2 separate regions of the Homo sapiens genome follow, and region 2 is linked to region 1. Evidence: fine-mapped expression QTL. A gene starts in region 1. The other region holds a variant in brackets. All regions are shown on one strand. Distances are from middle to middle. Region 1 holds the start of PAM (peptidylglycine alpha-amidating monooxygenase). Region 2 overlaps PAM (peptidylglycine alpha-amidating monooxygenase).

The links. PIP is the estimated chance that this variant, and not a neighbour inherited with it, causes the effect.
Region 2: its variant is fine-mapped to the expression of PAM in whole blood (INTERVAL, PIP 0.98).

What each region holds. Positions count from the first base shown.
Region 1 is chr5:102,753,610-102,758,000 of GRCh38, reverse strand. PAM (peptidylglycine alpha-amidating monooxygenase) reads right to left here and starts at 2,696. Exons shown (of 26, transcript NM_001177306.2): 1 at 2,653-2,696. RefSeq lists enhancers at 1,973-2,062, 1,634-2,134, 3,142-3,667 and a silencer at 2,453-3,002.
Region 2 is chr5:102,783,704-102,788,094 of GRCh38, reverse strand. The region is part of intron 1 of PAM (peptidylglycine alpha-amidating monooxygenase); the gene reads right to left. Among named protein-coding and RNA genes, the nearest start is that of PAM, 31 kb to the right of the region's middle. The variant A/G (reference allele first, on the strand shown) is at 1,690.

The DNA.
Region 1 (4,391 bases):
GCATGATCACAGCTCACTATAGCCTCAACCTCCCAGTTTCAAGAGATCCTCCCTCCTCAGCCTCTTGAGTAGCTGGGACTACCGGCGTGCACCACCACACCTGGCTTTTTTTTTCTTTTAATATTTTTTGTAGAGAGAAGGTCTCACTATGTTGCTGGTTTCAAACTCCTGAACTCAAGCAATACTCCCGCCTCAGCCTCTCAAAGTGTTGGGATTACAGGCATGAGCCACCACACTCAGTCTCACCAAGTCTCGTAACTTTTAAAGTCAAATTTCCAGAGTCACTTCAGGACCCACCAGGCCTTAAGGTCCAGCTTATTAAAAATCTTACATTAAATCTCTGTATATTTTTTCTAGGCATTATAATTTCCTTCCTCAAGGAGTTGAGAAAAAAACTGTATGTGGGAACCACAACATACAGTTGAAGGAAGTTAGAATTAAAATTTCTATAGCTTTTAACATTTGATTAGCACATCATACATGTGTAGAATGTTTTCCTAAGCTTTCATTCTAAAAACACAGAATTCATTTTATTTCCAAGTGCACCTTGATGAAGTAGGAGCACATGGCATTTTATTTTAGAAAGCAATGTCTTAACAAACTTGTTATTTCTTCCAATTATGCAAACTCACCAAATGATTTTTTATCTATTTATTTATTTAGTTTTATCTTTTTTTGAGAGAGTCTCACTCTGTCACCAGGGCTGGAGTGTGTGGAGTGATCTCAGCTCACTGAAACCTCCACCTCCCAGGTTCAAGCGATTCTCCTGCCTCAGTCTCCCAAGTAGCTGGGATTACAGGTGCCTGCCACTATGCCCAAGTAATTTTTTGTATTTTTAGTAGAGATGGGATTTCACCATGTCGGCCAGGCTGGTACGGAACTTCTGACCTTGTGATTTGCCCGCCTCGGCCTCCCAAAGTGCTGGGATTACAGGCGTGAGCCACCGCAGCCGGCCAAATGATGATCTTAAAGGGCCTTTGATAATGCATTCTTGACCTCATTCTACTTGCCATGTATAGTCATTAGAAGACTGTTCATATAAAAATATGAAATAAAACTACATAGTCTTTAAGTTACCTTGGAAGGCCCTTCAGGACAAGGAACATACTCTATATCTTTATATCTTTAAAGCATATAGCAGAGTGCATCGCGGAATGAAAATGCCTATTAAGTCAGGAATGCAGGAACGACAGGGCTTACCATTTAATATCAATTCTAAAGCTGATTATTTATTTTTGAGACAGGGTCTTGCTCTGTCACCGAGGCTGGAGTGCAGTGGTATAAACACAGTTCACTGCAGCCCTGACTTCCTGTAAAGCTGATTTTTTAGGCCATTTACTTGCTTTATAAAGTAACTAGAATGGCATGAACTATGCTTTTTTGTGCCTGTGATTATAAACTGAAAATTTACAAACAATATGTCACATGTTATTTGAGCTAAATGTCTGATTTTACTAAAATGAAAGTATCCTTCCTGGATTATTAGAATTAGCAGTAAATTTAAGTTTGCACCTAGAAGAGAAAAGCGATTGTAAAGAATGTAAAACATCTGAAGCAAACAAAGTCCAATAAGATCTTCCTTCTACTTGAATTTCTATGACCACAAAGGCACAGGATGTAAGGTCCATAGCTTTGTACACAGGGATTGGTGGGGACGACACGATTTCAACTCTGAACCCCAATGACCAGCTCCAGGAACACATGCCTTTTAGCCCCGCAAAGCTACTGACCAAATCACCCAGAGAGATAATCACATCTCAGCCAAAGGACCTGAACTCAGACGATCAGAACACAGGACCTGCCATCAGGCAGCTGCACGAGACAAGAGACCGTGCTCAAAATCACGTAATACCCTAAGTCATCCCAAGGGAGCCCCACAACTACCCTCAGCGGCAGGCAGAGCTGACGCATATTTTGCAGATGACAACATACAGGTTCCGATGGGGCGGGTCCCAAGGCCACAGAGCTGGGAAGGTGACTGAACCTAGACTTAACTAGTATCCCAAGTGGTGGATACTTCCCATTCTGCCTTGGAGATCGCCCTTCGCCCGCGTATTACATTCGGAGGCTGGCAAAACGGCAGGAAGAGAGCAAAGCTGGGCAAGGACGGGAAAGAAAGAGGGGAAGGAATTTCCACTGCTTCCCGGCACTCGCCCCCACTCCACACCCCAGGTTGCTACTCCGCGGCGGCCTCTACTTCCCCAAACTAGACTGAAGGGCGGGCGGAGAACCGAGGAGGCTTTCTAGGCGTCACGGAGAGTTCTCCAAGTTGGGGGCAGAAAAGGCGAATGAACAAATTGTACCCCCTAGGGAGAGGGCACAAGGAGAAGTGCGGAGGTGAGAAGGACCGGAGGGGAGGACGACCCCTCACAAACTGGCCAGGGACTTAATAATGGTGATGAAGGGTCGTGAGAGAGGTTTGGGAAATGCGAGAATAGCTCAGTCCCCAAAATCCTCCCTGGCCGCATCGCTGGATCCCCGCCCCATCCCCCCACCCCCGACCCGGGCAGCCCGGGAGAAAAAGCAACAACCTCCTGGGGCACCAGGAATTGGTGGCAGCAGGATCCCGAGCCCAGGCCCCCTTCCGCGCCCCCACCCTCACCCTTGCCCTGACCGCCTCGCAGTGGCGGCAGCAGCGGCAACAACACCAACCTGCGCGACCACGGGCTCTGTCCGGGACGGAAGCCGGAGCCTGCGGGCGGCGGAGCGGCGGGCGGAGTTAGTTGGAGGCTCCGGCTCCCTGGGCGGGGACAGGCTGAGCACGCGGAGGCAGCGGCGGTGGCGGGGGCTCCCTCTCCTCGGCGTGCGCCGGGCCCAGCCGGGTCCGCCGCTCGCCCTCGACTCCTGGGGCAGGTCTCAGTCCCTCCCCGGGGGCGGCTCCCGGGCCAGCCCCGCGCTCGCCTCCTCCACGCCGGCGGCCTCTGCTCCGCCCTGCCTCTTTGGGCGCAGGGGGCGCGGAGCTTGGGAAGTGGAGCCCTGGCGAGTCCCCAGCGATTGCGCGCAGCTTCCCGGGGTTTCCCTGCGGGGGTCGCGTGTGCTGGGTGTCTGAACTCACGCGCGGGCCAGAGGTAGCCAAGAGCTGGAACTCTTGCCCAAGTGCCCCGGGGAAGGGAGTGAAGGCCCGGCCTGAAAGTCTCTGACCCTCCCGAGTCTCGTGTCCCTAGAAGCAGCCTTGCGAGGTGGCCACGCCAGCTGCCCTGAGAGAAGCAGAGGAAAATGTCCGACTCTCCCTCCGCCCAGCTTCGCGCCAGAAGAACGTTTCCCGAGAGAAGGAAGGACCCATTGACCCCCAGCCCTTGCTCCAGCCTGGAGACCTGGCTGAGTGCATGGAACTGGAAGGATGGCAGAGTACCGGGGCTGAAAGCCTGGGAAATGTGCTATTTCTATTCACACCACCCCCTTGCCCGGCCCCTGGATTCAGGCCACCTCGCTCAGGTCTGCGCAGTGCTTCCCAGTTCACACCTCCGACCCGAGGAGGGAGGTCGGTATCCCTTTCTTAGCCTGGCTTCCCGCCTCCATCTGCATCCCTTTCTGCTAAACCTTTTTAACCCGCAGAGTGCCCAGCGCGCACACACCGATCACTTCGCCCCTAAACTGCGGGCAGGGAACTCTGGAGCCACCCACATCCCCAGCCTCACCCCAAAGCAAGAGAAAGCAGGGAGCCGCGCGTGGGGTGGTGGGGGCGGGGCTGGAGAGTTCCAGTAGGAAGGTTTTATACCCAAGAGGCTTGATGATGTGCAGTACTGACCCCACACACAAATTGATATGCGTTTAATTGAAGGCAGGTATTTGCCACTGTCTCTCCCTGTCTGCAGGTAACCGCTTGAGTGCGTTCACCTCGCCTCTTCCATCCCCAGCGCCAGCCCAGCCCCCTCTCTTTCTCCCAGAGTCCCATCCTCCTCTCCCTCACCTCTCCCATCCCAGCTCCCTGCAGCGCGGGTCCCGAGCTGCTCCAGATCCCCAGCACCCAGCTCTGGTCTTTCCAGACAACTCCTCCCCTTCAGAATCTGGTGTGGTAGCAGGGAGGTTGTGAGAAGGGACACTGAGGAAGATAAAGAAGGAGAAGCCAGTGGACTGGGAAGAAGGTAGGAAAGTGCGAACCGAAGGGGTACACCGGAGAGGAGCTATGGGAAATGAGGCAAAGCCTTCAGGCTATAGGGGGATTCCCAGAAAGAAAATCATTTTCTCCATAGGGAAACTACCGATGCTCGCTGTAGACCAGTTGGAAAATCTGTTGTACACCCTCCCAACAGAATTCCTAGTGAGCAGTGGCCAGACTGGTCAGGGCCTAGAGCATGTGTCCAGGAACTCCATCCACTTCCCAACCCAAATTCCAAGGCAGGCGGATGACCCTCATTTTGGAAACTTGATTCTGAGAAGGTGCGAGAAGA
Region 2 (4,391 bases), 30 kb before region 1:
TTGTACTGAAGTAAATTGGAGCTGTGTGAGTGCAAGTGAACTGAAATAGGACTTTCCTCAAGTATTTTTACGGTGAGGAATAGCAAAGGATTTTTCACAGATATGATACTATTTTAGTTCTTAAATCAAAAGCAAATTGATCTATTTTGCCAAATTTGCCAATAATGATAGCAGCAACCTGGAAATATCTACCATACATGAATAATTTAATAAATCCCAAGCCAGAGACTCACTATAATGGCTTAGAGAACTCCAGTTCCATAGATGGGAGATATGAATACTGGAAATACCCAACATTTCCTGAGAATAGCCAACATTTTTTTCTCTGAAATGCTCTATAATTGGTTGGATTTTCCATTCACTCACCAAGGGATTCGTAACTCTGAAGGAACTACGGGTCCCCTAGGAAGTATCAAATACAAATTTCCTTGCTAAGAGCTGCACAATAGTTTTCTTCCAGGAGTGAAGCTGACTGGGGTCTTGTTCAAGCTGAGTTTAGGCATTTAGACCATACAGTAGCCTATTTTCTGTACCTTTCACTAAGCCCAGGAAATCTGTCCCCATAATTGGGCACAGATTTCCTGGGCTTAGTGAAAGGTATAGAAAAATTTACATTCACATTTTAGCTGTTAAAGGAGGCAGTTTTGTCCCCACAGTTGGGACAGATCTGTCCCCATAGTTGGGATAGATTTCCTGTGCTTAGTGAAAGGTACAGAAAATATGTCTCAGGTCCCAGAACATAAGAACTCTAGACAGCACGGGATAATGGTAGCTACATTTAGAACATGGCTGGAACATGCTCAAGTCAGAAGAGCTGTGTGGGTCTGGCGGGACCTAGAGATGCAAATACCAAGAACTACATCTATTCTTCTTCTGCCAGCTCCCAACCCCACTTGAAATAGATTGAAAAATAAGGATGGTAAAACTATTTTGAGGAGGATAAATAAAATGCTAAGGATGAAGCATTTCTCCTTGGCCTTTCCACCAGCATAATGATTTCTAAATTAAGAGATTTTAAGTGAAATTCAGATCATTATAATTCAACAGCAGTAATGAACAGCCTTAATTTACAAATCTCAGATGGGAGAGTAAGATTTTTTTCTGCTTCCAGAGGTGTTACCTTCTTCTCATTACAGGGGTCAAATATATCTGCTGGGATTTATCATTATTATTATTAATTATAATCAGCCTTTGCTTGGTAGTTATCTTATTTATAACTTTTGATATAGAGTTTTTAAGATATATTCTTGACCTCTATACCACATATCAAAAGAGTAGTAAGTTACTTGTTTCTTTTCAAGTAAATTATTGATTTGCTACTGACTATGCTCAGAATGATGAATGAAGTAAGATTTCAAGCTGTGAAGAATCTGGAGCCCAGTACCTTTCTGACCCGCAACTTTGACCTAAAAAATGGCATGTGTCTAACTTGGAAAGTAATTTTTAGTTGCTATTTATTTAGAAATTATACTACATTTGTGATGCCTTTCTCCATTTTCTCCATGAATGGTTCAAAATTTAATTCCTAGAAATCACTAGTTTATAATCATTCCCTTTGATGTTCAGCAGTTCATAAAACTAACAGAAACCACATTAAAAAACTCAGAAACTGTTAATAGCAACGATTTAGAAAATAAGACTAAGTAGAGAATAAAAAATTGATATTAATAAGAGCTTACACTAATGATT[A/G]CGAATTAAATTCTAGGCGCTATTCAAAGTACTTTTACAGGTTTTAACTCATTCAATGCTTACAAAAAGCCTGAGATGAATAATACTAATTTCTCCATTTTGCATATTAGGAAATGAAGACGCTCAGAGTTTAAGTAACGTCTGTTCAAAGTCACACCTTCTACATGTGGACAGAGCTCAGTCTGGCTCCAGGATCTGTGAGCTTACATGACACAAAATTGCCTCCTTTAACAGCTGAAATGTGAAATGTATTCTTGCTTGTGTCCTCTCAGTTCTTTCTCTGAAAATGAATGTGTTCACTGTACACTTGACCCAAGAATGGAACAGTAAATTTACAAAATGCAAACTTTGCTTTACCATAATTCTGCTAACATATTCCATAAATTCTAATAATTATTAAAAATAACTTCATATAAATGATCCAATGTAAGAGATTATAGTTTGTGTAAAGTTCAACATCTTTGGCTCAATTTGAAATAAAACGAACATGTTAAAAAAATAATTTAGTACATATATAACCACTTGAATGAATGATTTTTAAAAAGTTAAATACAATGGTGAGAACTTCCAACACCACTCCTTACTCCCCATTTGTTTCCAAAGTTCCAGAAACCAAATTTCCAACGAGACAAAAACATCTCTTACTAGATGCTTGAAGACACCTTATATTCAATACTTTTATGGTTTCCCCCAACTTACACTTTCTAAACACATTTCTGCCTTGTTTCATGATGTCACTTAACTAACTCAGAAAGAAATTATATTTTCTTTGACCTCACTCTCTCCCTCAACCTCTTCAAGCCAATCAGTCACCATATTTCACCATTTCTGTTTTTGAAACATCTCCTGATCCCACCACCTTCCTTCCTTCCTATAACCACCACTCTAGTTCTTATTGCCATCTTCTTACCTCCACATGATACTTCTAAAGGTAACAGCTCTAACAGGTTGCCTTACCCTCTGGTTTGTCCCTTATTTATTCAGTCTCCCACGTATCTACCAAAGTTCTTTTGTAAAACACAAAAGTACAAAGCTTTTTAAGTTTCCAATTGTTTATAACAGAGGTTCTCAAACTTTAAAGGGCATGAGATTCATTTGAAAGGCTTGCTAAGATACAGATTGCTGGGGACTCCCCCCTCCCTTTTCTTATTAAGTGAAACTGGGAAGGGGCCCAGATATCTGCATTTCTTACTAGTTCACAGGTGGTGTTAATGCTGCTGGGCTAGCATCACTACTTTTTAGTGTCCCAATCAGTGCTGTGCATTAAAACTACTTGGGATACCTATGTAACAAACCTGCATGTTCTGCACATGAATCCCAGAACTTAAAGTATAAAAAAACAAAGAACAACAACAAAAAAGTCTATTTGGGGAAGTTTTATAAAATGACTTGCTGAATCCTAAACCAATTATATGCGGGCATTGCTTTTTTGTTGTTTTTAATCCTCCAGGTGATTCTGATTTCCTAAAGTATGGAGAATCACTGGTGTTTAGTAAAAAGTTCCAAATCCTTAACATGGCATTTAAGACCACTCACCTGGTGTTTATGCACTTGCTTTGCCTAAAAATTCCTAGTAAACGAATAACAACAATAATAAAGTTTGCCTATCTAAAAGCATGTATTCCCAAATGATTTTGTGTGAATTAAATGAGATAATATATAGTAAATGCCCGCCAGTGACTGACACAAAGTCATGTTTCACATAAATGTTAACATCAATTCAATTCAACAAATACGTTGAGTATATTTTTAATTCAATTCTACATATATGTATGACTCACCCTTAATATGGAAGAGGCTACATTCTCTGCTGGGAATATCTGGTTAGATAAGACAGAGATGGTACCTGTCCTCAGAAAGTGAACAGCACAAAAGTAATCAGAGTTTAAGGTAATGAATACCAAACGTTAGTGACTTTTGTAATAAGTACTGTACAAGGAGGAGGACAGGGTCATATGAGAGCTTACAACAGTGATACCTAAATTTTTCCAAGCTTACGGTGCCAAGGAAACCTGAAATCTAAGGTGTGTGGGTGCAAGGGGGGAAACTGAAAAGCGCATTCTAGCCCACCAAAACAGCTTGACCCAATAGCACATAGGCAGGAGCAGCTTAGGTGTGCTAGGGACAGAAAGGCTGGTATGATTGGAGCTTAGAGGTTACACAGGGAGAAGAGGAGCACCAGGTAAGAACAGAGAGAAAGATGGGGGTAGATCAGCCGGGCGCGGTGGCTCACGCCTGTAATCCCAGCACTTTGGGAGTCTGAGGCGGGCGGATCACAAGGTCAGGAGATCGAGAACATACTGGCTAACACGGTGAAACCCCATCTCTACTAAAAATGCAAAATATTAGCTGGGCGTGGTGGCGGGCGCCTTTAGTCCCAGCTACTTGGGAGGCTGAGGCAGAATGGCGTGAACCCTGGAGGCGGAGCTTGCAGTGAGCCGAGATTGCGCCACTGCACTCCAGCCTGGGTGACAGAGCGAGACTCCACCTCAAAAAAAAAAAGATGGGGGTAGATCATGAAGAATTTTGAACTTGATCCAAGAGGAGAGGGAAACCATTCAAGTGTTCTACAATTAGGTCTTCCTGAGGCTGTCACCCTCCAGCTGGTATGCTCCCTGACGGCAGGCGCTGGGTTCTATTCATCTTCCCCTTTTCCATTCTAGTTAAGTGGCCCTCATACTGCTGCATGCACATCCCAAGGG